Linked DNA regions of Homo sapiens: all the other regions are reported to be linked to region 3. The links are microRNA targets in miRTarBase. Many come from high-throughput screens and were not tested one by one. Region 3 holds a microRNA gene; each other region holds the end of a gene's coding sequence.

The links. Region 3 holds the annotated microRNA hsa-miR-136-5p (ACUCCAUUUGUUUUGAUGAUGGA, at 1,793-1,815, opposite strand). A microRNA usually pairs through its seed, bases 2 to 8, with sites in the 3' UTR of a target mRNA and lowers its output. Matches are read on the target gene's strand: a 7mer-m8 pairs with bases 2 to 8, a 7mer-A1 pairs with bases 2 to 7 and ends in A, and an 8mer does both.
Region 1: the mRNA of SNX13 is a reported target of hsa-miR-136-5p. The part of its 3' UTR that is shown has no 7-base or 8-base seed match.
Region 2: the mRNA of MADD is a reported target of hsa-miR-136-5p. The part of its 3' UTR that is shown has no 7-base or 8-base seed match.
Region 4: the mRNA of MIX23 is a reported target of hsa-miR-136-5p. Seed matches in the 3' UTR shown: 7mer-A1 at 3,450-3,456.
Region 5: the mRNA of BSND is a reported target of hsa-miR-136-5p. The part of its 3' UTR that is shown has no 7-base or 8-base seed match.
Region 6: the mRNA of OLIG3 is a reported target of hsa-miR-136-5p. Seed matches in the 3' UTR shown: 8mer at 2,757-2,764.
Region 7: miRTarBase lists BTF3L4 as a target of hsa-miR-136-5p. Seed matches in the 3' UTR shown: 7mer-A1 at 3,542-3,548.

The regions. Positions count from the first base shown.
Region 1 is chr7:17,790,556-17,794,649 of GRCh38, reverse strand. SNX13 (sorting nexin 13) reads left to right here. Exons shown (of 26, transcript NM_015132.5): 26 at 358-3,889. The coding sequence ends at 605. Among named protein-coding and RNA genes, the nearest start is that of SNX13, 150 kb to the left of the region's middle.
Region 2 is chr11:47,328,531-47,332,615 of GRCh38, reverse strand. MADD (MAP kinase activating death domain) reads right to left here. Exons shown (of 37, transcript NM_001376571.1): 36 at 3,912-3,958; 37 at 2,585-3,570. The coding sequence ends at 3,466. It overlaps MYBPC3 (myosin binding protein C3), which reads left to right. Exons shown (of 35, transcript NM_000256.3): 32 at 1-50; 33 at 358-544; 34 at 735-771; 35 at 900-1,210. The coding sequence ends at 745. Among named protein-coding and RNA genes, the nearest start is that of MYBPC3, 22 kb to the left of the region's middle.
Region 3 is chr14:100,882,437-100,886,530 of GRCh38, reverse strand. MIR136 (microRNA 136) reads right to left here and starts at 1,829; the gene lies at 1,748-1,829. It overlaps RTL1 (retrotransposon Gag like 1), which reads left to right. Exons shown (of 4, transcript NM_001134888.3): 4 at 1,657-4,094. The coding sequence starts at 1,743. It overlaps MIR127 (microRNA 127), which reads right to left and starts at 3,552; the gene lies at 3,456-3,552. It overlaps MIR432 (microRNA 432), which reads right to left and starts at 2,048; the gene lies at 1,955-2,048. RefSeq lists a silencer at 545-839.
Region 4 is chr3:122,356,227-122,360,320 of GRCh38, forward strand. MIX23 (mitochondrial matrix import factor 23) reads right to left here. Exons shown (of 5, transcript NM_001017928.4): 5 at 3,365-3,693. The coding sequence ends at 3,643. Among named protein-coding and RNA genes, the nearest start is that of MIX23, 25 kb to the right of the region's middle. RefSeq lists a silencer at 2,183-2,383.
Region 5 is chr1:55,007,860-55,011,859 of GRCh38, forward strand. It overlaps BSND (barttin CLCNK type accessory subunit beta), which reads left to right. Exons shown (of 4, transcript NM_057176.3): 4 at 355-4,000. The coding sequence ends at 769. Among named protein-coding and RNA genes, the nearest start is that of BSND, 11 kb to the left of the region's middle.
Region 6 is chr6:137,490,085-137,494,084 of GRCh38, forward strand. It overlaps OLIG3 (oligodendrocyte transcription factor 3), which reads right to left. Exons shown (of 1, transcript NM_175747.2): 1 at 2,115-4,000. The coding sequence ends at 3,268. Among named protein-coding and RNA genes, the nearest start is that of OLIG3, 2.3 kb to the right of the region's middle. RefSeq lists an enhancer at 3,220-3,719.
Region 7 is chr1:52,086,285-52,090,378 of GRCh38, reverse strand. It overlaps BTF3L4 (basic transcription factor 3 like 4), which reads right to left. Exons shown (of 6, transcript NM_152265.5): 6 at 1-3,667. The coding sequence ends at 3,621. Among named protein-coding and RNA genes, the nearest start is that of BTF3L4, 32 kb to the right of the region's middle.

The DNA.
Region 1 (4,094 bases), not on the chromosome of region 3:
TATAAATCCTCCTTTTCAGATGAGAAAAGAGAGTCAGGGTGGTGGGTAAGTATCACATGGGTATTAAGGGACATGTTTGTAATCATAGTTTGGGATCTTTGAGACTGTTTTTTATTTTTTATCTCTTACACCTGTGCTATATTGTCTCCCAGTAGCTTTTGCATTAAGTGCGTAAATAGATGCATGCATGCAAAGATGCATATTAAGTTTCAGCTATAGTACATAGCTGAAATGCATTAACTGGTTACCTACTGTTCATCAGTTACTCTGCTGTGTACCTTAATTTAAGAACATTTAAGAGTTTAGGCCTTGTGTTTCCTTTGAATAATTATGTGTGTTTTCCTCCACTTCATTTAGATGAGCTGAAGCACATTATTGGGGCTGAGACAACACGGAAAGGTATTCTTCGTGTTTTTGAAATGTTTCAGCACAACCAATTAAATAGGAGAATGGTTTATGTCTTCTTGGAAGGCTTTTTAGAAACCTTATTTCCACAGTATAAATTCCGTGAACTTTTCAACAAACTGCATTCACGGTCAAAGCAGATGCAGAAATATAAACAGAAACTTCAAACTACTCAAGCGCCTTCTTTGCAGAAAAGGTGACACTCCACTCTATGAAGCTGGTGTTCATTTTGTCCAGGACTAATGGTATGGACAGATCTTCTGGGGCTTAACTCAAATACTGTTGTGTCTGCACCAGTCTTTTAGTGTCTCAAAATAGATTATTAATACATCCATAAGTCTGTGGTTCTTCTCATTCTCATCTATAATCCACCACTACCAAGAGAGATTTCTGTGTCTTAAATGATTTGGTGCATATTTTGCAACATTGAGAGAAAACTGCCCCCATCTCAAGCAAGAATGGCGTTGGTTTCTTCCATTTCAAACTAATCAGCATTCTCCAGCAATGACAAAGTGCCAGAGTGTATATATGAAAGCTAAGGAAAGCACAAAACAATGGTTCAGAGATAAATTGGCTAATTTGTTTAACAGTTGGAGACTGTGCAATGTACGACTTGGAGGAGTTTGTTTGGCATAATGATTTTGTAGGTCTGTCAGCATTTTGATATATTGTGGATTAGCCAGGTGAATGATCCTTGAAACATCTCTTTCAGGTCTGGAGAAAGAGACAGAATGCCCTTAAAGTGTGAAATAACCTTATACCTGAATTACAGTTTTGTGATATAAAATAAAGCTGAGTATAAAATAAAACCAATCAAACACAGAATTTGATTGGATTTGTTATTCATTGGTATACAACAATTTTTATTCTTATGTGTGCTTTAAGGGCTGTGTTTTGCTCTTAGGGTACTCAATTTTATGTTTCCTTTTGGCATTCTTTGTGCAAAAAGAAGCATGTGGTGGCTCTCATTTAAATTTCAAAATTATTAGTTTTATCTTTAACAGATTACTGATTATACAGAAGATATAATTTATTGGAAGAACTGCCAAATACATTTTGTCCTTCTAAAAATATGGAAATTTAAATAGTAGTCTGGAAAGTTACCATATGATAATTTTTAATTGTGTGATCTAGACATGCCTTAGGTAACTGCAGAAATAGCAAATTAAATGATTAATGAGCTTATTAGTCATAGTAAACATACAGATTCCTAATTCTATGACAGTGTACATATATGAAAATAAATGATGAAAAAAGAACTATAATATTTTTAAAAATATGCTTTTATTTATATTTCACATAATGTAAAGTTCTACAAAATAAAGCTAGTAGGCAAGACCCCTCAGTGTATACCTTTAAACCCATAAATTAATTTTATATCAATAAAATAAAATACTTTCTCTAGTTTTGGAGCTTCTGTATTTCCTATAGTTTTCTGACTGTCCATTTTATCCATCTTAGAAGTATTCACATCCCTTCTATGCAGGATTTCTGCATAGTTTTAAATACTTTCATTGCCTAAGGGTTTGGGTGTGTCAGCTTTTTTTGTTTTAAAAATATTTAACACTAAAACCTTAAAATAATGAAGCTACTTATCAGACCACTGAGCCAAGATCCTGGTATTAAAAGAAAGTCTGGGTGCTTAAGATAAAGGGACAGAGTATTGGTATCCCAGTTATTTGGGAGCTTTAAGATTGGAACAAGATATCACTGTCTTGTTTTCACTTAGATCCTACTTACAAAGTGAGGGTTATTAACAGAATAAAGCCTTCCTTTAAAGCTTTATAATAATCATATTTATTAATAATGCTGTTGTGCATACTTATAGTATGCATATATTCAGCATATGTTGCATGTCTTCAGAATTACATAAAATGAAATCCCTTTCATTGCAACTTGCAAGTGAGAAAAGATCCTTAGTGGCTCTGGTGGAAGAAATAGTATTTCTTCTTCTCAGGGTGTCTCCCTGCCTTGGCCCCTCCCTGAGCCCCAGGCTTTAAAAGTGAAAATGTTTGAAACATGAAACATGTCTGTAGGAAGCATCAGCATGGCCATAAGTGCAGTGATTTTCATATATGCCTCTGCCCATTTCAAATATATTTTTGACATGAATAAATCTAACAGTATACAGAATAATTCATGTAAGACCCTAACGTGTACATGTGAAAAAGCATTTCTATATAATGTGAGGAGCACTGGCCATCAATTAGGGAAATAAAGGTCATGTAATATTGCAAATTTTCAAAATAGAGCCCTGCAAGATAACTGCAATCATACCAAAAACTATTTGAGTAAATGGATTTTTAAAGTAATTTTTGTTTAGAAGAGTTTATATTTCAGAAGCAGAAAATGTCAAATGATAGTCTTTGTAAATGGTGGTGCACCTTCTCTATGCACATCTGTCTTTTACATCAGAAAGAGCTGTGGTCATGCTAAAATTAGAGATAACTTTTTGAATGACTTGGTCAAGCTGTGTGTAAAATATTTAACCATAAGTCAAGTACAGTGTACTATGTTTAATAAAGTTACATTTAATGCATTTATTGCATATATGAATATATACATGAAGAGGCTTTATGTCTTCTGGTATTTGATTTTGAATGTTTTTTAAGTCAGTGGTGCCTTTAGGCAAGAACTTTCGAAATTAATCATTCTTTGTGTTTTCTGATTTTTCAGGTAACATGTACACTATTTAGAAACCATCATAGTTTATTCACCTTAAAAAATTGATTGTATTATTTAAATATATCACTTAGATGGGCATTTCCTATAATTAGGATATTCCAAATAGTTGCTGAAATCAATTGTGCCATTGACCAATGGATGCACTTGGTTAGCCTTAATTTTTTTAAAAAAAAAAAAAACAAAAACTTTCTTGAATATTTCAGTTTGTTCATTTTAAGTTTGTGCTGCTGGTATTTGGGAAGAAAAATCAATCAGTTAAGTGCTACCAGAAAGTGTACCAATTTTTATAAAAATTAAGAATGATATAAATTTCACAATCTAAAATTTTAATTTTGTGCAATATTTTCATTTAATGCATGTGTATTTGAGTAATTGTAAGATAAATGAATTTTTAATTTTTTGAGATGTAGCTTAAACTGTCTTCTTAATCCAACAACTTACATTCCGTTGTTGCTGCATCCTTTTATTTAAGGACTTGTTTTAAAAGTCTTTTTGTCACTCCTTGGAAAATTCTTTTATTAGTAGTAAATTTTGCTTTTAGGAGCATGGCTCCTGTATTACAAGGGAAAAAATATGAAGAGCACATTTTAGGATTATAATTGTTAAAAGATAATGTGTGCATATCATTGTACAGTAAGTGTCAACTGTGTGCCTAACTGTTCTATCAATACTTTCTTTCTTTAACAAAGAAGAAACAACAATCAGAATGTCAGTTATTTTTATTCAACTAAAAGGATTAAAAAATTTATTTGGTTTGTGTTCTGTCCATTAGAAAATACTAATAAAGTATTAACAAACATTTTTGTTGAGTTCATTTAATAGTAATGTATTTTTGTTACTTTTAAGATGCTTGCTCAGTAGTCTTATTTTTAGTATCTGTTTGTATTTTCTTTTCTTTTAGATATCAACCAATTCAAGTTCCAGGTTGATAGATGAGTGCTTGAGTGATTACTGACTTAAATGGACTGAATTTAACTTTTTCTTTTATGGGGCAAATAATTTAC
Region 2 (4,085 bases), not on the chromosome of region 3:
TCGCGGGCTACACTGCTATGCTCTGCTGTGCTGTCCGGGGTAGCCCCAAGGTAGGGAACTTTAGGCGCTGGTCCAGGCCGACCAGGAGGCAGGGCTCACAGGCCCCGACGTTGAGCAGTCCTCTCCCCAGCCTGTCTCCCCTGCTTTCTCTCCACCTTGGGGTGTATGGACCGGGTTCCTCCCCCTGGGCAGGGCCATGGTACTCACTCTTGGTTCCATGTTTGTTTCCAGCCTTGGGCATAGTCAGGGACTCTCGTGGGACCCCCCGAGTAGAAACACAGATGTGTCTCCCTGGGTCCCTGCCAGGTCCCCTCTCAGCCTGGATGGCTTCCCTCCCTCTCTTTACCTTATTTATAGCCCAAGATTTCCTGGTTCAAGAATGGCCTGGACCTGGGAGAAGACGCCCGCTTCCGCATGTTCAGCAAGCAGGGAGTGTTGACTCTGGAGATTAGAAAGCCCTGCCCCTTTGACGGGGGCATCTATGTCTGCAGGGCCACCAACTTACAGGGCGAGGCACGGTGTGAGTGCCGCCTGGAGGTGCGAGGTGAGGAGCCCTCGGGGCCAGGGCCTGGGAGATGGGAAGAGCGGGCGGCAGTGGGGACCCTGGGCTTTGCTCCGTTGTCCTCGGCCAAGCACCTGCCCTGGCTGCAAGGGCACGGACCCTGCCACGCCCAGATGGGCAATAGCTTCCAGAAGGCTGGGAGGACACAGTGACATGGCCTCCTCTTCTGCAGTGCCTCAGTGACCAGGCTGGCTCCTGGGGATGGCCAGGTATGTACCACCCGACACCCAGGGCACAAGTCAGTGGCTGAGCCCTGGCCCTTGGTCCTGGGGCAGCCATCAGTAAATGGGAGGCTGTAGGGGCCCTCCATTCACTCGTAAGATAACCTGTGTTGCAGGTACAACCGGATGCCAGCCCCGTGCCAGGAGCCTGGAGGGAAGTTGGGGAAACCCCTCCCTACTGTTGGATGTATGTGTGACAAGTGTGTCTCCTGTGCTGCGATGGGGGATCAGCAGGGCAGTTGTCGGGCAGTCCTGAGTGGGTGTTGCACAGACTGGTCCACAGGGCTCCTGAAGGAAGCCCCTGGATCTTTGGGGTAAAAGGAGGGTGGCCTCAAGAAACAATGTCTGGGGACAGGCCTTTCTGGCCTGCTATGTCTTCCCAATGTTTATTGGGCAATAAAAGATAAGTGCAGTCACAGAGAACTCACTCTTCTCAATTTCGGTGTGCCTGTTTTCATAAAAATGCACAGGGGATGGCCAGGTGCGGTGGCTCATGCCTGTTATCCCAGCACTTTGGGAGGCGGAGGCGGGCCGATCACCTGAGGTCAGGAGATCAAGACCAGCCTGGCCAACATGGTGAAACCCCGTCTCTACTAAAAATACAAAAATTAGCTGGGCAAGGTGGCGCGCCTATAATCCCAGCTATTTGGAAGGCTGAGGCAGGAGAATCACCTGAACCCAGGAGGTAGAGTTTGAGGTGGGCCGAGATCATGCCACTGCACTTCAGCCTGGGTGATGGAGTGAGACCATGTCTCAAAAAAAAAAAAAGAAAAAAGCCCAGGGACATTGATCTTCACAGCAAAGTGAGAGCAGATACTGTTTTTTGTTTTGTTTTCCCGATGATTAAACCAGGCCCAGAGTGGTTTCTGAGTTCATAAAACATTAACGCTAGAAGGAACCTGTCTTCCCCTACAGCATTCACTCTTCAGATGATGAAACTGAGCTGTGACAGCGGAAAGTGCATTTAACTGGTCCCAGGTGCTCAGCGTGATCCTTGTGCCAGGGGCCGTGGTCACAACCGCCTGGAGGTGGGGTGAGGCAGAATCTCAGTGTTGTGATTGTGCTGGGGTGGAGCTGCACTAGGTGGCTTTGGAGTCCCAGCCAGCAATAAGCCAGCAGCGGGTTCAGACCCATATCCCCGGTGGGAGACAGCAACCCAATCCAGTCCAGGACGCTGGGCACCAGAAAGGTGTCAGGGCCAGGGCCCCACTCTGCTCTCACTTCCCCCATGGGGAGCCTAAATCCGAGCATCTGTTTCCTTTTGGGCGCGGGAAGCCAGCAGGTCTCAAATTCCCTGAGAGTGCAGCCAGGTTTTTCCAGGACAGAATTCCATGAAGGCAGCTCCTAGGGGAGCTTCTGGGAGTTCTATGCAGTGGAAGACACTCCTGGCCAGGAGTCCGGGGCCCTGTGGGAGGCCCTGGCTGAATCACCACACCTCTCTCGACCATACCCACCTGTAAGGGAACGGAGAGGGCCAGGGCCTTGGCTTTCTTTCACTTAATCTCAGTTCAGGTGAGGACGCCCAGTCTGGCTGCTCCCTCTAGCAGCCTGTTCATTCATGGCAGCCCAGCTCTCTGCAGGGCCCTCAGGTGCCCAGGAAGGAAAGCTCCTCCCGCAGCCTTGCTCTAGGAGCCCAGAACAGGGGAGCTGGGGCCTCCGTGTGCCAAAGCTTGGACATGGATGACCTCATCTCCTTCCTTCCTTCCAGCCTGAGGTGACTTTTTAGAGTCCAGGGATAGCTTTCCTCAGGCCTGAGCCAAGAGGAGGTGTCATTTAACACAAGGCAGCCAGGGAGCCTGAAGGGAGTTGAGGACATTTATTTCACATTCACACAACTGTACATTTTCTATAAATAATGTGGGGCTGAAATATTTACAGTCATTTCTTGCCCATACCCAGGCTGTCTCTCCCTCCTGACACCCCGTGCCTGGAGAGACAGCCTGCAGACAGATGTGCAAACCCAGCTTGGTCTTTCCTGCCCCCTCCCTGATGCTCAGGCAGAGCAGCCAGCGGTCCCTGGGACTCCACTAGCCTCGACCACTCCATCCTCTGATGCCGAAGGCATGGCAGGCCACAGGGAATTCGCCGCTCCACTGCAGTCACAGAGGCTGTGGCAGGCAGCAGCCAACACTGCGGGCCCTGGGCAGTAGCTGCCGGCTTGGGAATGCAGAAGGAAGCAGGGAGGCTGCCACTCACTCCGGCTGCCCCCCAATTCTTCCCTTCCTCTCTGTGCCCTTCCTCTGAGAGGGTGAGCCCCAGGGTTCCCTCACTCCTCACAGAGTGAAACTGCTCCAGGCGCCCAGTCATGCCGGGTCACAGAGAAGGGAGAGCCAGACTCTTGCAGTGGACAGTTATAACGCCAGGGACAAGGACAAGGAACCACAACACAAATGTCTCAAGGACACAAAATAGTGGGTTCACACCGGCCCCACAGACTGTACACATTCTTGAGCCCTGAGGGGAAGGCAGTTTGGTCTTCTGGGAGTGGAGAGGGAGAAGGTGGACACGCTCAAGACACACTCAGAGGGACACATAACCGGTAACCAACCAAGCCACAGCAGGGGGCTTGCAGAGGACACACGAGCATCATCCACTCCTCAGTCACAGCAGCATCGTGCACTTGGGAACAGCAAGGGGCCAGGGGCGTGCCCTGGGCTGGGGCAGCTGCGTAGCCCCTCTCCATCAGCTAGAGACAGGCCGGGGCGGGGTTCTGAGATCTTCCTCACTGCTATGAACTGCAGCCACGTACGAGAAGAGACATAATACGGAGTAGCAGATTTCGTGGGCCTAGAGGAGAGAAAACCAGGCGGATCACGATACTGAGACTCCTCCATCTCCATATGTGAAGGATCTGCCAATGGGCAACTCCTGCCCTAACACTGGGCATGGGCCTCTGGGCTAAACGTGAGCTCCAAGCAAGGAAGCTGTCCCCATGGGAGAGGGGATCCGTGTGTGTGTGTCTGTCTCTCAGGGCTCAAGACCTGTTTCAGCCTGAGTTGAACCTTTGGCAACAAAACGAGGTCCCCACTCACCCCTGTGCGCTCAGAGGGCCCTCCCCTCCTCCTGTCCGAAGGTCCCCCAGGGAGCCCTGCGCACCGTGGCCCATCAGGGTTGAGCGGCACACTCACCATTGGTGTCTTGTACTTGTGGCTCACCACTTCTTTAATTTCAGGAACTAAAACCGGACGGGCAAGAGACAAAACAGAAAGTTCAACACTAAGAGCAATCGTGCCATGCTCCCCCAGGCGGCAGCGCCCGGCGTCAGGGTCCCCTTCCCCTCTGTGGCCTCTCACAGTGGCTGC
Region 3 (4,094 bases):
CTCTACCTTGAGGAATGACAAAATAAGAATTTTATATTATATTAAGGCCCTTACATTTTAACCAGAGAATAGTTTTGGTGAGTTTACATGTCAGATATGTTTACGCTAGAAGGTTTGGATTTAATATTGCAGACAGTAAATAAACAGTGGAAGGCTTTAATCAGAGAGACTGCATGATCAAATTTAAGTGTCATGCTAACAAGGGTGTACTTAATTTTGAGAAACAGCAGATCTGAATTTTGTATCCTGTTGGAAAGCTTGGATTTTAGCCAATGAGTTTCACGTAAGGGGGAACGCAGTTTTTTTTTTTTTTTTTACGGATGGGTCCAGTGGCTTAGAAGAAAACTCAGAAGTAACAAAAGGTGTTAAATTTATAAAGAGCAGTAGCTTTACAGTTAATCTATCAGATAATCAAAGCTTAATTTGCTCTGCCCCAGCAGAGAAGAAATGTGCAAATAACCCCAACCAAGACATTCCCTTTCAATTCTGTCTCAGCCCACTAAAACCACCCAACACTAGATTTCCAAAAATCCACTCTGGGACCGTCAGATTCCAAAGATGTCACATGTTCCCCCCAACCCCCACACTCAATGTCCCAACTCTGCCAGATACATGTCTGTTGGGAGGGCTCAACCAGCAACAGAGAGAAAAAGATATTTGCTAGAAAGAGGAGACCAGACCCACTGGCGTTAAGAAGGGGACCTGGGAGGATAAGATTGGAGAGGCGTGCAGATATGCTTGCACTGGTGAAATTGAGGCCAGATGTGTGAAGTTCCAGAAGCCTCACAAAGAGGGCAGTCCTGGGAGAGTGGAGATTGTAGGAAGAGAAGGAGATTATTTGAAGATCTCCTCAACAGCTCAGAGGTCGGGAGAACATAGCATTGGAAGGAGACCAAATCGAGAAAGAGAAATTGGCCAAAAGTCTGAGTTAGAATCAAGTAACAAATATGCAGTTATCCAGCACATAGTAGGTATGTTATAAAATTTATGGAAAAAAAAAAAAAAAACCCAGACCTGTACACACCCCCTGAAATTTCTATTTTGAACATGGGGAAGGAAATAAGAACTATTTTGGGCTGCTGACCCAACTGACGGGACAGTGGCCAAGTGCCCATTTTCTCCTCTTCCACTGCACTGGTGAAACAGTAGGCATCTTTGCTAGAGATTCCCGCTCCACAACCAAGGTGGCTGGGCTTGCTCCAGAGCCCTGAGCCTGCCAGGGGTGGCTTTGGATGGTGCTGAGATGTGACCTCTGTGATTCTCAGGTGACCAAAGCAGGAAAAGAGGATTGACCAGGTGCATGTGCCAGGGGGGAATGGAGCAGCCTGTGCACCCTGCCAGGTACCCGCCTGCCACGGTGGCTGCTCCCAGCCACAGAATTTATGGGCTGTGAATTTCTCACATCTATGGAGGAAAAGGACAGGACAGGCAGACTGAATAAGCCTGGGAGGCAGGTCAGGGGTTGACAGATCTTCCCTCCCTGGGGGCACCCCAAGTGACCAGCCAAAGAGGCTGGCTCGATACAAGAAGGCTTTCCCCCATTTCTCTCTGCTCTGATTAGTTGGGCATCTGATTTGTCCTTGAGACCCTGATACTGCCACTTCACAAGATCCTAAACTACTGCCTTTACTCCCCACACTCCCCTTCCACCACCAGGTTCTGATCTCCACGGTCCCAGCTACTGACTGGACGCCATCACAACCTTACCAATCTTCAGAATACACTCCTTTCCATCCGACGAAATGATAGAACCCTCTGAAGACTCATTTGAGACGATGATGGAGCATAAGAATCCATCATCAAAACAAATGGAGTCCTCCGAGGGCTCATCCAACACCACCGAGGCGACGTCGGGCAGTGGAGTGCGGGGAGAGGCAGGGCCAGCCAGCGGCCCAGCCCAGGAAAAGAAGGAGCCCCCCAGTGGCCCACTCCAGGAAATGGAAGAGCTGCCCACTGATCTACTCCAAGACATGGAGGAGCCATCCAGTGGCCCACGTAAGGAAATAGAGGATCCACCCAATGACCTACTCCAAGACCTGGAGGAGTCATGCAACGGTTCACACCAGGCAAGGGGGGATCCACTCAGTGGAGCATCTGATAGGATGAAAGAAGCATCAGTCAACCCATCGGGAGCCCGAGAAGAACAAGAGGCTCACACTGACCTGAAGGAATCGGGAAGGGAGGAGACTCCTCAAGAGCAAAACCAGACCGAGCACTCAACCGCAGAACTTATGGCCATGGTGAGGTCCATCATCTCGCTGTACTTCCGAATGCAAGACCTCAAAGAGCAACAGAGAGTAGCAGAAGAGATCTTGATCAAAGGGATCAATGCAGGCCAACTGCCCGCCCCAAAGCACTTCTCTGGCGATCGCAGAGAATTCCACGAGTTCATCGTACTCTGCCAACTGACCTTACAGAGCTACCCAAGAATGTTCTATAACGACCGTCTGAGAGTTGGCTATGTCATCAATCACCTGTCCGGCTTGGCATTAGAATGGGCCAAAGCTCTACTGCAGGAAAACAGCCCCCTGATCGGAGACTTCCCAGCCTTCCTGGAGGCCATGTCCGAAGTGTTTGAGTACCGCCAGGCACTGCGTGTGGCAGAAGAGGCCATGTTCACCATCAGGCAGGGCGGCCGCTCTGCCACTGAGTACATCGATGAGTTCCAGAGCCTGGTACCCATCTTGGGCTGGCCAGATGAAGTCCTGCAGGCCCACTTGTGCCAGGGGCTCAACGAGGAGATCAGGCACTATCTATTCCGGGTCCCTCAGCCGGATTCCCTAGACAGTCTGATTGTGCTCATCCTGCAAATAGAAGAGAAGCTGGCAGAGAGAAGAGCTATGCTCAGGCTGCCCCCCGAGGCCCGCCCCCGGAACCTGACCTGGATCGACTCACCTGCTCCAGAGAGGTGGATGGTCAGCAGCTGGTTGCCCAGCGAAGTCCATCCGGACATCAATCGCGCCCACCTCTTCCTGCTGCTCATGGTGAGAGTGAACCCCTACCACAGCGTCGCGGTCCAGGCCCTGGTGGATTCGGGAGCTGACGGCAACTTCATGGATGAGAAGTTCGCCCAAGAGCACTACGTCGAGCTCTACGAGAAGCCGTACCCACAGCCGGTCCAATCCGTGGACGGCTCGCTGATTGGCAACGAGCCTGTCTGGCTCTACACGGAGCCCCTGGTGTGTATCCACCAGAACCACCAGGAGTCCATCGAATTTGACATCGTACCTTCACCGAACTTCTCTGTGGTCCTAGGCATCCGCTGGCTCCGAGTCCACGCCCCCGAAGTCGACTGGATCAAAGGCCGCTGCACCTTCCACTCTCCCTACTGCCTGAAGAACTGCTTCCGCCCGCCCCCGCCATGCATTGCCCTAGAGAGGCACGGCATGAGCCTGCTACCCGGACTGCCACACCCATACTCAGACCTGGCCGACGTGTTTAACCCGAAGGAAGCAGATGATGAGACTTCCGACCAGCCAAGCTCAGACGGATCCGATGATCTTTCTGAATCAGAGCCCTCTGAGCTTCAGCAGGCTGGAGACAGTGATCACAGCGAGACCTTTTACGAGTGTCCCTCCACCGCGCCTTGGGAACCTGTGGGTGCCAGGATGCAAGAAAGAGCCAGGCTACAGGAGGAATACTGGGACCTGCAGGACATGCTGACCAACAGACAGGACTACATACAGATGATTCCGGAACTGTTTGACCAGTTACACGGAGCCGAGTGGTTCACAAAACTGGAGCTGCGTGGGACCATTGTGGAGGAAAGCGTGAACGGGCACCGCACCGAAGATGTGTGGAAAGCAGCGTTTGGTTTGGAGCTTGAAGAGATGAAGAGCTACCAGCCGTTTGCGCTCTCCCCAGACCCTATCATACCTCAGAACGTGATTCACTTCATCCTAAAGGACATGCTAGGGTTCTTTGTGCTTTCTTATGGCCAGGAAGTCCTGATCTACTCAATGAGTCAGGAGGAGCACCTCCACCACGTCCGCCAAGTCCTGGTCCGCTTCCGCCATCACAACGTCTACTGCTCCCTGGACAAGAGCCAGTTCCACCGCCAAACCGTGGAATTCCTGGGCTTCGTCGTCACCCCC
Region 4 (4,094 bases), not on the chromosome of region 3:
CCTCCACCTCCTGGGTTTAAGCAATTCTCCTGCCTCAGCCCTCTGAGTAGCTTGGATTACAGGCGCCCGCCACCACGCCCAGCTAATTTTTGTATTTTTAGTAGAGACTGGGTTTCACCATGTTGGCCAGGCTGGTCTTGAACTCCTGACCTCAAGTGATCCACCCACCTTGGCCTCCCAAAGTGCTGGGATTACAGGCGTAAGCCACTGCGCCCGGCCAGCCACTGGGGGCTTTTAAGCAGGAGAAATTTTGCTTGCTGGTTTTTAAAACTGGAGTGGGAAAATCATTCAATCACAGCAATTATCTTTAAGTGCCAGTAGATTACCTATCCCTTCTTAATGCACCAGGAGATACACAAATGCACCTCAGCCAAGTCCTCTTCCCTTGGACAGGGGTGCCCCCAGCTGGCCATTGCATTCAGAAGCTGGAAGCCATGTTTGTCTAAACCTCTTTAGAGGTTGGGAATTTCCTTCCCAACGTAATTCTGTGGGATAAAATCAGGCTTGTCCTGGAAATGCTACCCCAATCAGGAGTGGTCACTTTCTATCTTCTTTATTCTTCAATGTTTATGCTCAATAATAAAGATTCTTTTTTAAGGGTCAATCAAGTTCATCAAGGGTACTCTACAAGCCTAAATACACACAGAAATCATGAGTAACCTAAGTAATCTCTAATATGTTTGATTAGATCACCTAACTCTAGATAGAATGTTCATTTTTCTTGATTTAAAAAGGGCTCACACATTTGATTAATCTCCCATTTTACAAGATGACAAGTTTATCACTCCTGGACACTGGCACATTAGCAGGGACTACTATAGCAGCACTGGGTACATTATCACTACATTTCCCAAACTGGTATCTTCAGTGTACAACTTATTATTAAAACAGGATCTTGCTCTGCCACCAAGGCTGGAAGGCAGTGGCACAATCATAGTTCACTGGAGCCTCAACCTCCTGGGTTCAAGAGATCTTCCCGTCTCAGCCTCATGAGTAGCTGGAACTACAGACAAGCACCATTTAAAAATTTTTTTTAAGAGACTGGGTCTCACTGTGTTGCCTGGGCTGGTCTCGAACTCCTGGGCTCTTGATCCTTCCGACTCAGCCTCCCAAAGTACTGGGATTGCAGACATGAACCACCACATGTAGTTCGGAGAACAACTTATAAAAGAATGACATATTAGAAAACACCCTTTTTATTACTGCACTTACTTGGTACATTTCAATCTCAAGTTAAAGCAACTTTTCAAAGACAAGGGCATTATATTTTCCAGTCAGCTGAAAACAGTCATTTGCAACCCACTCTCCATCCCATTCCTGATTTCCTTCTCTATTTTTTTTCATAGAACTTTATCACATTTTAGCATACCATATAACTTACTACTGTCTTCCTTCACCAAATATAAGCTCTTTAAAACCAGGTATTTTTGTTTTGCTGAGTGATGCAACAATAGTGGTTAATAGTGCCCAGGAAGGCATTTAAATATTTGTTAAAAGAATTTGCAAATGTATCATCATAGGTGTTTCTTCGTATGGCTGTCTTCTGTTCTGCCAAGGAAGGGCCAAACTCATCTGTGAATTTTCGCACCTTCTACTTCTTTTCTGTGTGTGTGAGTTGCTGAATCCTACCTTTCAGGCAACAAAAGCAAATCAACAAATTGTTCTAAGGCAGTAATTACACACAGGACCCTTTTCCAGCAGGCAAATCAACTTTCAAAAGCAATGTCATCCATCTTCCTTCATTAGTTGAGGCTCTAAATGCCATTCATCACACTAAACCTATTCATTTATACTGTCACTCCATGCTGCCGTCATTGCACATTTTTCATATGTTACACTGGAATGATTCAGGCACTCTACTAACATAATTGGATTAGCTAGATGGTATTTTGGCAGACCTGAAAATCTGGAAAGACTGTTAATGAATCCTTTCCAAGGATCTGAATTCCCTCCTGAGCAGCAGAATCAGGGAGATCTTTGTCTTTCTATTCTTGCATCCATCCTTTCAACTCACTTATCTACCCAAAAATTACTTACTCAACTTTATATATAAAGGCATTTTTTACTGCAGACCTCTAGGAAATTTTTGTTGAGACTAGATTATAATCTCCACAAAAAGTGTCTGACCTACAGTAAGTGCTCTACGTTTTGTTGAAAGAATGGTGGGCACTTTATATCTTTATCACTCATTTCCAAATGCATAATCTGATGGTGGTCAATGTACACAGGCCCACCAGAGACCCAGCTGGCTAATCTAACTGGGCCAGAGCCAGGTGGCTTGTTTAAATCACTGTGGTGGGCAGAGTCCTAAATTGGCTCCCCAAGATATCCCTCAGACCATGAAACTTGGTGTCTGTGGTTATTACATAATCTGGCAAGAGATTTACAGATGTAATTATGATTCTCATCAGTTGACTTTGAGTCAAGCAAAAAGATGTGGTAGGCCTAATCACACAAGCCCTTTAAAATCATTTTGTCTGGTTTGTAGCAGAAAGGGAAGTCAGATAGATTCCAAGTATGAGAAGAACTGAATGCACCACGCCCAGCTTAAAGATGGAAGGAGCCATGTGTCAAGAAATGTGGGTAGCTTCCTGGAGCTGAGAGTGGTACCTGACAGTCAGCAAGGAAATGGGGACCTCAGGACCACGATGCAACAATCTGGCAACTCAATGAGCTTAGCAGCAGACTCTTCCCCTAGACTCCAGACCAAAGCCCAGCCTGGGACTCAGCTTGATTTCAGCTTTGAGACCCTAAACAAAAAAAATTCCAGTCAAATCTGCCCATCTGGCCTACAGAACTGTAAGATACTGTTTGTGGTAATTTGTTAAGCAGCAACAGAAAACTAGTAACATAACCACTCCATACACTAGAAAGTGGTTTTTTTTGCAAGGACCAAATCCTGTAATTACAGCAGGTTTGTTACTAACTCATTTGCTGTCATGCAAGCTCTTCCCTGCTCTTCCCTTTCCTGAATTTCTGCTTTCCTTTTCCATGACCATGGAAATACTGTCCAGGAAAGAATTCCACCAAAAATTAGTTTTTATATCTGAAAATAAGATCAGTTAAGGTACTAAAAGAAAACTTCTTTGGGCATTGTCCAGCTTATAATACTGCCCTTTTATAATCAACCCACAAAGATAAATCAAGGAATAAACTTATCAATAACCAAAAAGGTCCACATCCATGCCAATAAATTTATAAAAATTAAAAAATACACTACAAATCAGATATTGAAAGTGCATGCAAATTATCTTATGAGAACTGTCTTGCAACCTGACAGGATATTAAAAAAATAGAAACTAAAAATTCAATAAATAAATAAAAAGAGAACTGTCTCAACATAGAAAACAATCAAATAAATATGTACACTGAGTCAGAAAATTATTTTAATAGTTACAAAAATTTTTTTTTTTTTTTTTTACAGAATCAGTATAAAATAGCAGTTGATTTCTCCATAATTATCAGAATTATTTATACTTGAGGTCTTGGCTAAGTGGGGCTGAAATCAACAAAAGGTCTTGGACTGTTGGCTCAGAAATCATCCTAGAAAGCCCGCCCTGTTGATATCTGTCATGCTTAGCTCTTATGAGATGACCCAGTCCTTAAAAAAAAAAAAAAAAAAAAAAAAAAAAGAATCTCTCTTTATTCATTCTTTGGAGGCTTGAAGTGAATTCGGCAGCGTTCATTAAACACCTAAAATATTGAAACAGAAACAAAAGTCATTGAGTTATCCTGCGTAAATCAGGCCTGGAACTAAATTCAATTTAGTAGGCTCCAAAAGGCTATTACCATTTTTGTCCTAAGTCAACAGATTTAGGAAACAGAAGAGTTTCCTCAGCAGTTCAAACTGACTTATGAGGTGCCAAATGCACAGAAGGCCTTGACATCCATTTACAAGACAATTCTAGTATTTTAATAAAATTTAAGTTACTTCGGGAAAAAATCATCAAGAGCCAGGTAATTTAGTTACTAGCAAACATTTCAATTTCATATTCTGGACATTTTTTAAACAACAACACAAAAATATCTAAAATAAGTTAAATAAAGAATGCTCAATAACTAAATGTCCACATGGAACTGTGTTAAATAAAAAT
Region 5 (4,000 bases), not on the chromosome of region 3:
ATGAGGGAGGCAAAGACACCCGGGGACACCTCAGTGTAACTGGGCCTATGAGCAACAGAGGAGAACCCTGAATAATTGGAGAAGTAGATGAGTGACCTGGTTCAGATAATAGCATAGTAATAGCCCTATTTCATGAGCACCTTCTATGTGCCAGGCACTGTGCAAAGTGCCTTGCACATATTATCTGCTGTAAACCTAAGAAAGAACTGCAGGAGTGAATTCTGTTATTGGGAAGAAACTGAGGCCCGGGAAGGTGGATTATCCTACCCTAGGTCTTGCAGCTAGCGGCTGGAATGTGGACCCAGGCATTCTGACTCAGAGATACCCTTGCCCTTGTGGTCTTTGTCCCTGCAGCCCCCTGGCCTGTCCCCAGGGCCCTGCCCCCTTGGCTTCCTTCCAAGATGACCTGGACATGGACTCCAGTGAAGGCAGCAGCCCCAATGCATCTCCACATGACAGGGAGGAAGCTTGTTCCCCACAACAGGAACCTCAGGGCTGCAGGTGCCCGCTGGACCGCTTCCAAGACTTTGCCCTGATTGATGCCCCAACGTTGGAGGATGAGCCCCAAGAGGGGCAGCAGTGGGAAATAGCCCTGCCCAACAACTGGCAGCGGTACCCAAGGACAAAGGTGGAGGAGAAGGAGGCTTCGGACACAGGTGGGGAGGAACCTGAGAAGGAAGAGGAAGACCTGTACTATGGGCTGCCAGATGGAGCCGGGGACCTCCTCCCGGACAAGGAGCTGGGTTTTGAGCCTGACACCCAAGGCTGAGATGTTTGTGCTCCGTAGCTTCTAGTCTGGAACTGCTGCTGACCCCTGTGTGACATCACAGGGCCTCAGTTTCCCTATCTGCAAAATGGGATGATATGGAGGTTCAATGAGATGGTGGCATTTTGAGAATGGTAAAGAAATACACAGGGAGGGGATGATGACTATTAGTGGACTCTTGTTTTTCCAATAGTTAGTGGTCTTTGGCCAACCTTTGAAGGCAAAATATGATTTGTTGAGGTTTGCAGCAGCTGAAGCCCTCAAAAGCATTTTCCACCTTCCCCCAAAGCTGACCTCTGAGAGGAACCTTCCTTGGTGCTCCCTCTGGGCCCCTGATCCTTTGTGAAGGCCAGTCAGGTTTCCCATTCCTATTGTGTCTTATAGTCCACTTGGTAGATGGCGTGATCCGTCTTTACACAGAGGGAGCCTCATCTCCTCCTGGGCCACATTCCTCCTGCAGCTCCCATCGCTCCTTGGCCAGGACCCAAAACCTTCTGTGACTGACCCCTGCTGACCTCATTCTCTCTGCTCCTCCAGTTCCAAGCCTAGCCCCCCTGCCCATCTTGCGGCTCACACTCTTGCCCAAGCTGTTCTCCTCCACCAGGATGCCCTTGGCTCCCTTTTCAGCTTGGCAAATTCGTGCTCACCCTTCAAACCCCTACACAGATGACCTCCCTTGGAAAGGTTTTCCTGATGTCGCTGCCTCCTGGAACCAGGTGGTCTTGCCTCTCTGCGCTGCCTTTGGGACCTGTATATTTGTCAGTGTGGCATGGCTGCCTGCCTCCCGTTGAAGGGCAGCATCTTGACTTTACTCACCTTGAGATCGCCTGTGCCCAGATGGGCCTTTGGCCTGGCCCAGAATCGGTGGTCATCAAGGGTGTACAGAACTCACCAGGACCCAGGAACCTGTTGCAGATAAAATCACTCTCCCCCACGTTCCCAACTTTTAGACTCACAGCCCTCTTACTTCCCAGCATTCAAACTTCTAAATGGCCTGTATGTATTCACAAAGCAGGCAAAAAGCCCCCAGAGGAACACCACCCCCCACCCCTGCCTCTGGAATACATTTGCTTTGACTTGGAATTGTAGGTGAAATTCATCTTCCTGGCCTACTTCAGTTTGAATCAGTTGGCTAGCCAGGTGCGGTGGCTCATGCCTGTAATCTGAGCATTTTGGGAGGCTAAAGTGGGTGGATCACTTGAGGCCAGGAGTTGGAGAGCAGCCTGGGCAACATAGCGAAACCCTATCTCTACTAAAACTACAAAAATTAGCTGGGCGTGGTGGTGCACACCTGTAGTCTCAGCTACTTGGGAGGCTGAGCTGGAGGATAGCTTAAGCACAGGAGATGGAAGTTGCAGTGAGCCGAGATCGCACCACTGCACTCCGGCCTGGGTGACAGAGTGAGACCCTGCCTCAAAACAAAACAATTGGAATTGGATGGCATTTAGTGAGCATCTACTATATGCCAGATATTGAGCTGTGATCTCTAGGGGTAAAGAGACATGAACTACTGACACCGTGCTTGCCTTCAGAGGGCTCACAATCTAGTGAGCTTGATTTCTGTGAGTGCAGAGCAGAAGCTGAGGTGGGAACAGAGAAGTAAAAAATGGACACACCAGAGGCAGAAGAGTGACAGCCTCCCAGCTGTTTGGGGCAGTTGAGTATGGTGGGGAAATAGCTCAAGCTGTCTTTGCAGCCCCTGAAGACATCACTGTACCCTATTGAACCATCTCAGGGTGATGCTATTGTTACGCTGATCCCTGCAACGCTTGCCTGTGCCCCAGCCCAGGATCCTGGCAGCTGCAGAGAAAATGGCAGTAACACTACCTCAAACCAGGACCACGCCCTCAGAGCCTGCACCCTGGGCCACCTGGGAGTCAGAGACCTTCACCTGGGCTATGGGGTTCTGGGTTGAGGCTGGGGTTCCCGGCCTAGGGAAGGGCTTCCGGGTTGAGGCCGGGGGTCCTGGCCTAGGGAAGGAGATGCCCCTGTGTGCTGGGTTACAAGGTCATGGCCCTGGGAACACACTTCCTTTTCTTTCTGGGTCATTTCTGCCTCTGCAGTGAAGGATGCCACAGGGTACACCCTCTCTGCTGTCATGACTCAGGACAGGAGTTCCTGGTCACAGCTGAGTCTTCGGATGAGGTGAGGGGTAGCATGCTCCTGTGCTCTGTTGCCTAAGGCAGGGCAGCCTACAACCCACGTTAGAAACAGCGTCAGCACTAAGGGCTAAAATAAAACTACTTTCAACATTTAAAGGGGTCATCTTCATTCACCTGCAAATTCTTTTCTTTAAAACCACCCCTTCCCTCGGGGCAGGATACGTGAGGCCTTACGCCTGACGGGCACCAGAGGCCCTCTTCCGGAAGTAAGCCCTCACTGCAGTGGCATGACCGTGGGGTGTGCTGTGTGGTGCTGAATCTCAGGAGTGATTCCCCACACCCCTGAACCACAACCGCAGTGGCTTTAGACTTAAACAAGAGCCTCTGGTTGCTGGGCCTGCCAGCAGGAAGATGGTAACCCTGTTCTAGAGTTAGCATCTGCAGGGGGCTTGGGGTAGTGGAGTGAGATGGTGAGACCCAGGCTTGGTCTCCCTGGCTCTTGCTGCATGATGGGGAGACCACACACCTGATCTGCCCAGGAAGGTCCCGGTTGACACCGACTGCCTCTGCTAAGTTATTAGGAGGCCCCTTTCACGCTCGAAGATACCTCATTTGGATGATACAATGTTACCTTACCTACTCTGTGACCTTTGACAAGTCTGGTTGCCTCCGTAGCCCTCAGCTTTCTCATGTGCAAATGACAGATGAAGTGCGCATATCTTGGAATCTTGGAAGTGATGGGGGTGTTTGATGGGACCTATCTTGTCAATGCCCTGCAGCCAAAGACCACTGGGAGCACACCTCACCTGTGGTTAACAAGCTGGGTTTCTTCTTGCAGTAAGGGGGAATGAACACCACAGCGAACCAGGGGGAGTCTCTGAAAGAGGTATTAGAAAGGACTTGTTACTGGATTTGGGCCAGTGCTCAGTGGCTTGGCGAGGGTTTAAGAAGCAGGCCTTTGCTCTGAACCGGCTGCTGTCAGGAGGCGGGGCTCATTCTATGACTGGGTGTCTTCTTCAACCTTATCTAGGATAAAATAAAATCATAAAACACTGTGCTTCATGCCCCTGGCCTTGCCAACTTGCAGTCCCCTCTAAGAGCATCAGAGCCTCTGGGGCACCCCCTCTCCACT
Region 6 (4,000 bases), not on the chromosome of region 3:
AGAAAGTGACAAGTTTACAACGAAAAAAAATCCCGGCCGAAACCCATTTTCACCTTTGCGGTCATGAAATCTTTTTTCTGGCGTCGATAATTCGAGTATTTAAAGGGAAGTGCAATGACAGTAAAAGTCTGCCTGCAAACTCACATGCCCAGCAGACCCGCCTAGGCATCAAGGGAAGGGCCTTCCCGGAGAGCGAATGGAGATTATTTCTTCCCAATAAATCCAGAAACCTCAGATGACGTGGCTCTCAAATCACCTTCCTCACTGGGTTCCTGTCCTGTACTTAAAGAAATCCTCTCTTCTGGTCTCGAAGCCAAAAGAATTTTTGTATCCCAGAAAAGAGCTCTGCTCACTTAAGAGATCTTCTCGATATTGGAAGTGGTGTCTATTTCCCATTTTAGTTGCAAAATTTGCAATAGAGTTCCCTGTGCTCAAGCTTCCTTTCAGCTTATGTGAGTGGACATCACAGCTCTTTAAACTGACCACTGCTGTAAATCAAGGATTTCCTGTCTCAGCAGCACAATCACAAAATCCACGACTGTCCTAGTGTAAAGAATGTGGCTTTATTCCTTTGCATAACCCAATTTAAGACTCAGTTTTAGAGAAGGCATGAGGCCCACCACTAGGCCAACTGTAAGGCACTGAGTCTTTCCCCAGAACCAGGCCTTTGGAAACAGGACTCAAAAGAAGCAAGTGGCTAAGGAGAAAGTCGTTTTCCTGATTGATGAAACTTCTCCCACCCCTCCCCTTTCTAAATAATAAACTCTGGGGAAAGACTGGAGGGCTGCCTTGTGTTGGTTTCAAATAAATCTTCAATAGGCTCTTTCCTCACCCAGAGAAATGAATCACCCCTGGGAAACAGACGATTATTCCCCCATTTGTCTGCCTAAAACCAGTGGAAACAAGTACCCTCCACTGTAGATGCTAACTTAGGTCTTTCGCCTGGCTGAGAGTGGGGTAGCGATGGGAGGGTAAAAAGGGATGGAGGGGGATGATTTGCATAGAAGAGAAACCCACAGAGATGCTCTGCCTGACAGAGGCAGTACTGGGTAGGCATCAGGGACCCAGGAAAGACAGGGCAAACGCAAATGCTTCCTAGACGTGCTCTCCTTGCTGGATTCTAGAAAGAGACCACAAGCCTCCCCCCATTGGAGAGGAGCTTTGGCCTCAACCAACATCTAGGTGATGTTACAACTTATTCAGAAGCAAATCCTGGGGTGTTGCATTTCAATCAGGGTTCTATTTTCTTCAGAGGGAAATGGAGGCTTGTGTTGTTGGGGCTATCCTCACTACAGCTCGATTTATTGTCCCCTTTAAACAAATAGACAAAACTGTCTTGCTGGATTACTCCTGCTTAGACAAACCATTTAGAAGTGTTATGGCGGGAGGTGAAAAGAGAAAAGTAGTTTATTAAAATGACTCCCGTTTTAGCTGACTTTTTTGTAGAAGATGCCCAATGTATATAGCTAATCAGACCAGCAATCTTCTAAGGGAAGAAAGAAGGGAGGATTCTCGCTATAAATCTGCAAGATTCTGAGACTTGGGTGGTGGTTTGACTCACCCGGAGCTCACCTTACAAAGCAGAGAAGCCTTCCCTTTCTCTGTAGGCCATGCTTCCGAGGGTGCAGGCAAGCAGGGTGAGTATTTGACTATTTTCTAAGACCACTCTTTGTTGACTTTTAAAATGTATACTAGATTTTAACATGGGGGGAAAAGCACAAGTTCAATTTAAAGTGAAAAGAAGTTAACGTACTGCTTCATCCTTGTTTGTTGCCAACACAGTCATCGTAGTGACACTCCACCTCTCATTTCCTGCCACTTTAAGTTTCCAGATTACTTTTTAAAATTCAATTCTCGAGTTTATGAGGGTCTGATTACTGCAGAGAAATGAGCTCAAATAGCATAATACTATGAATGTGGGCAATGCCCGCTTGAAGGACATTTAGTTCCAAAAATCAGCACCAATTTACCCATCCTGTTTACTTGTACGTAATCACGGAAAACCTTCACATCTGCCCACCCATCCAAATTCCTCACCCAGATACACCTTACCTGGTCCACGTGTTTCCTATCCCACTACCCCCATCTGCTAAGATTTTAGGCAAAGGCAAAGCCACGATTTAAAGGTTCTTTTTTATTTGAAATCTCATCCAGAAACACTGGTTATTAATAAATATATCATAGTTATCAAGAATATATAAAAAATAAAGACAGGTATCGTCTTTGAGGCCCTAACAAAATATTTCAAGCAAATGTTCAGGAAAATAAAAACGGCACCCCTCCCAAAACCAGGATAAGTTTTCAAAGCTGATAATAGAGAGAGCCAACCCCGCATGCAGAATAACTGAGCGAGGGGGGGTGGCGCAAGCTACTAGAGGGAGCCCAGGCTTTTACAATAGCGGCCCCAGAACAGCAAAGGAAGGTTCCGAATAAAGTTTGAAGGGGGTGGGGGTGGGAGAAGAAGCGCGTGTGCGTGAGTGTGGGTCTTTGCACTCTGCCCCTTTTTTCATTTCATACAACCACAGACAGATATATGGAGTACTTGGGATAATTCACTAATAAATCCTTGTTACAAGGAAAACGGCACCACAGCCTGCACGACATATTCAGACAAGATTCATTTAGAAGCGTGCATGCATTCTTTTGACCTACACTGCGTCGAAAGGAAAACCCACATAGGAGGTGTCATGCCCTGGACCTCGGTTGAGATTCAAAACTTGGGTCTTGATCTCTCTCGCGCTCTCTCTCTCTTTCTCTCTCCATTGTCTCTAGAAAAACTGTGGCAAGGACAGAGACAATCATAATCGCATCCATCTCAAGAAAATATTTACATTTGTTTTGCACAAAAGGGATGGCCGTCTTTTTCCAAAGCGAGAACACAGAGTCAGAGAAAGCCAACTCAAAAGTCCCTTCGCAAGTTTTTAACTACACCGATCCCATCTTTATACAACAAATGCAGTTTTGACAAGAGCATATGGCAGTGAAAAATACTGGCGCGGCATGGGGAAAAGAAGCATGCATGCAAAACACACGACATCTGGTTCGAGTCCCCCTTTGCTACCACCTAGAAATTGCGGTTTGATTTTGGTCCTTTCCCTCCGGGGGTCAAGTGGAGTCTGAGATCTCTCAGACAGCGTGGGAGGCTGCGGGCCCCGGAGCCTGCCCTCCCGTGGGCCGAGCGTGCAGCCTCCCTCTTCCCTCCCGGCCCGGCACCGCGGCCCCTCCCGCCGCTCTCCCTCCTCCTTGGCAGCCGGGCCCGCCCGCTGCTCACTTGAGCAAGTCCTTGGACTCGGCCGACAGCCGGGCCATGTTGGCTGTGGAGAGAGCGGACAGGTGCGGCGGCGGCGGCATCTGGCAGATGGTGCAGGGGCAGGGCAGACCAGCCCAGTGCTGGAAGCCGCTGCCCAGCTGCAGCGCGGGCGGCGTGGAGGGCGCCTTGAGTAGCGAGTGGGGAGGCCGGATGGTGCCGATGGCGGGAAGTGAGGCGGCGGACAGCGGTGACGAGGCGTTGCCAGATGAGAGCGCGCCGCCCAAGATGGGGTGCACCGGGTGCACGGAGTTGGCCGCGTGCGCGGGGTGGCCGGCCGAGTGGCCCACGGTCCCGCAGTGAAAGGCCGAGTGGTGGCCCCCATAGATCTCGCCAACCAGCCTCTTCATCTCCTCCAGGGAGCTGGTGAGCATGAGGATGTAGTTTCTGGCGAGCAGGAGTGTGGCGATCTTGGAGAGCTTGCGCACCGACGGCCCATGCGCGTAGGGCATGACTTCGCGCAGCCCGTCCATGGCTAGGTTCAGGTCGTGCATCCGCTTGCGTTCGCGTCCGTTGATCTTCAGCCTCAACTGCTGTAGGTCCTGCTCCGACAGCTGCTTCTTGATTTTGTACTTGCTGCTCTCTCCCGCGGCCTTGGCGCCAGCCCGCGAGAGGCTTTCCCCGGGCATCTTCTGCATCATATCGCCCTGCGTGGACGAGACCGAGTTGAGACGGCTCTCCTGGTGGTGGTGG
Region 7 (4,094 bases), not on the chromosome of region 3:
GGAGACTTTCTGTGCCTAGAACCATGAGCTTCGGAAAATCTAAGCCATAGCTTAGGAGATAACACGCTTTAATCATCTTCTACCTTCACCTTAATAATTTAGGGGATTCTAAGAAATCATGACTCTTCTAGGTACCATTTTATAGATAAAACTGAGGCTCAGAGAGCAAGGCCATCATTGCATTATTAATGGAGGACACTATTCACACTGCAGTCTATGAAAATGACACCTTCTGGAACACAACAAAAATAAGTGATGGCTCCCGAAGTTGTGCACCGCAGCAGCCCTGTCAGAAAGGTTACAATGTAAGGGTAGATAGCAGAATTGATCTCTATCTAAAAACTTGTGCTTTTCCCACTATAACATACTATCTCTTACCATGGTATCTTATTTATGGGTATGTAGCATACCTAGGGTTAAACACTGAATTAAAACAAAGAAACAAATCAAACATATCGCAGATATGGGTTTTTCATAAGAACTTCATAGGCTTATTAAAGTGAATTTAATGGAATCCTGTAAGCACTAGCTACTTAACAACAAATTAAGGTGCTTGATATATTCTTAAACCATTACTTAATGGGAAAAATAAGGGTAAAACAGATATAAGAGCCCAACCATTTACTTTGGACTTGTCCAAAACAGATAAGGCGCTTTACAAAGAACAAAAACAAAAACAAAAAAACCTCAAAGGACTAACACAAAAATTAAGATCATAAATCAATTTTCTGCAGACATTTCTTGAATTATCCCAAAATTTTAAGGTCAATTTCCCCCCCAAAATGTTTTTATCATTGTTATCTTGGCAAAAAATACCTAATCTTAGTAAGAAGCACATATTTAACTAGTTATTTAAATATAAAAAAAGATTTAATTCATATTTATGCCAAGAACACTACAATTTACAAAAGTTTCATCCAAACTCTTACCCTATGTCTACCCACACCAGAGGGAGGAACATGTCTTTGTGGAGAGGATTTCTTTGAGACTCTAAATATGCTTTGTTCAGGAAAGGGGAAGATACAAAAATATAGAACAAAAAAGAATATTGGCTCATTGTACACAAGAGAGGCCAGCCATTAAGAATTGTTATCAATACAATAAAAGGGAATACTTGGCCAGAGATCCTCTAGATAAGTAGCTAAAATGTGATCAAAAGGAGAAAGAGGAAGAAGCAAATACACAAACGTTTTATGGGTATTAATAAAAATAAAGACATCTCTGAACAAATGATAAAATCCCTTCCCTGAAAAATTTCAAATGAGATTCACAGAAATGCAGAAGCAGAAGAAACTTTAGATTTAGAAACATCTCATTTGGGCTGGGTGCAGTGGCTCACGCCTGTAATCCTAGCACTTTGGGAGGCCGAGGCAAATGAATCACCTGAGGACAGGAATTCAAGACCGGCCTGGGCAACATGGTAAAACCCCATCTCTACTAAAAATACAAAAAAAAAAAAAAAAAATCCCAGCTACTGTGGAGGCTGAGACAGGAGAATCGCTTGAATCTGGGAGGTGGAGGTTGCAGTCAGCCGAGACCACAACATTGCAGTTCGGCCTGGACAACAAGAGCAAATCCCCATCTCAAACAAAACAAAACAGAATAAAATCTTATTTGACTGATGATAAATTTCAGAGTAGTTAGATGACCTGTCCAAGGTCACATAATGCCAGAGTTTTGACTAGGACACAAGTCTCCTGGCTTCCAAGTGTGTGTTTTCTTTCATGTGCTATACTGCCTATTATTTATCTGTCCCTAACCACTTGAAGTGGTTCCCCCTAACTCTGCCTCCACAATGTCCCCCTTTGGGACAATTAGAGAAAGAATTCTGGACTGTGTAGACTGTGGAGCTACTGACCTAACACTGGATGAGGCATTATTTCAAACAATTACTGCACTAACATTCATTTACAGGTGGAGGGTAGAGGAATAATATAAAAGGAAATTCTGTACACAACATCAAGAAAAGCACAAGAGGAAATATTCTCCTCTTTTGCACTGTTATTTTATTTTGTTTAGTCCATATATTATATAAAACATAACAGGAAAAATGAACGAATTTATAAAATAAATTGAGGTGTTTGGATGAAAAAAAATACAAGAGCTTTGCCTTCATGTCTACAGATCTCTTAATATATTGTTGGTCTTGCACCTTAGATATCAAATAAAGATATCTAGCTTGACACAAAAGTTGGTAGCTGCAAGGTTAAGCTGTATTAGTTTGATGATGGGCCAGGAAATGATATATTTTCTAAATTTTGTCCTTAAATATTGGCTGTAACAAATGCTGATATAGCAAAAAGTAAGCTTCTATTAGACAGCAAGAGGGAAACTTGAGTGAATGAATGCAACTTACCTCCAAGTCCTCTTAAAGGAGGTAAAAAAATAAATACTGTGTTTTACCAGTGCTCCCCTCAAAGCATTATTCTAAGCATGCAGGAGGGTATAGTGAGCAGCTACAATAGTAAGATCCAACCCAGAGGTAGGTTCAAGGCCAAGAGTAGGAGAGTGGTTGAGGAAATCCTCCTAGGGCCAGTACCATTTCATAGAATGCCCATTTGTGCTGGGAGATGAGTCTATGGCCTATTTTCTTCTGATTCAAAAGGACATTCCCAATTTCAACCTTGCTGAAAAACAGGCATTTTTGTACCTGCTGTTAAGAACAGCTAGGATACAGGATAAGGCTGGCATAAAATTATTTAGCAAGCACATGCTAGCTATTCCAGTTTGAAATCTACCAAACTGTAACATCAGGGAGAAATAAAAAGTTGAAGATGAAGTTGTTCCTCAAGCTGAGGGAACAAAATCTTACAAAAGGAGGGATTAGGCACTCGCTAAACTCTATATGGAGAACATCCTTCTCAAGCTAGGTGGAAGATGAGGAAGAATATTACCAAAAGCTGACCAGGCCATTTGGAGACCAAAAGGAGAGGAAAAAAGGCATTTAGGAAGCAAGCTAGTAAAAGAAGTTCTTCTGGGTCTGACTAGGTAAGTTAATCTAAGGCAACCATACCAAAGATATGTTACCCATTACTCCAGCATGAAGCCAGTGGCAAAATACCTCAAGATATTTTAAATCCAGAGAAGTGTATGAAAAATATGATAGTTAACCAAGCAAATTAAAATCAAACCACTAATGGTAAAAATCTCTTCAGATTTGAAATCCAAGATACTCACTTTCCATTAATTCTGTGTCTTACGGGGGGAAAAGAAAAGTAACAAATGTAAAGATTTTTTTTATTTCTACTGGGGAGGGAGGAGGATAAATAGAACTGTTTTCCAATTTGCTCTCCACTGTATACACACATACCCACACACATACATAAACATACATACACCAAAAATACCCCAAACAAAAAACAAAAAAACCAGGAATCAAAAACCAAAACACCCTCAAACTGCACCAATACTTCATATTTTGACCAAAAAAATATCCTGGGAGGAAGTGCAAAATGCAAAATCAAATGACCGAAAAATGCTGAACAAACAGCATTATTAATATACAAAATATTTATATTACTGAACTAGTAACAGGTGATGTTCTCCATGTCTGTAAAACTTTGGAACCACATAGCTGATTTGTTAAATCTAGTCCATGCCAGCTTCCAAAAACCAAACTTTTAGTTAGCTTCATTCTTTGATGCCTCATCAAAATTTTCTACAAGATCTGAAAAAGAAAAACAAAGTATATGAATCAAAGAATACAAAAAAGGAAAAAGAGGTAAATGGAACTCCTAACTTCTAACCCCCGAAAAAATAAAATTAGTACAACCAGAATTAGCCTGAAAACATAAGGAGGCAGAAATGAACTGGTGGCATTTTACTAACAATGATTTAATTATTTGCTTAGGACAGTAATCCTAAGGAAATGTTCATCTTTTGTCTATGCAAATTACTGAGGTGAATAGCATTTTCATATGTCAATTATAATTCATACAGAAATGTTATAACAATAGCTATGCAAATTTATAATCACAGTGATTTCAATTTAATAAATCCAGGCAGCAGAGCTTTGTGTGACAATTTCTGATTCTAGGTTCTAAGGTGGGTGCTTACGTTGTTTTTCATTAGATCCTATCCACATTATTGTGAAT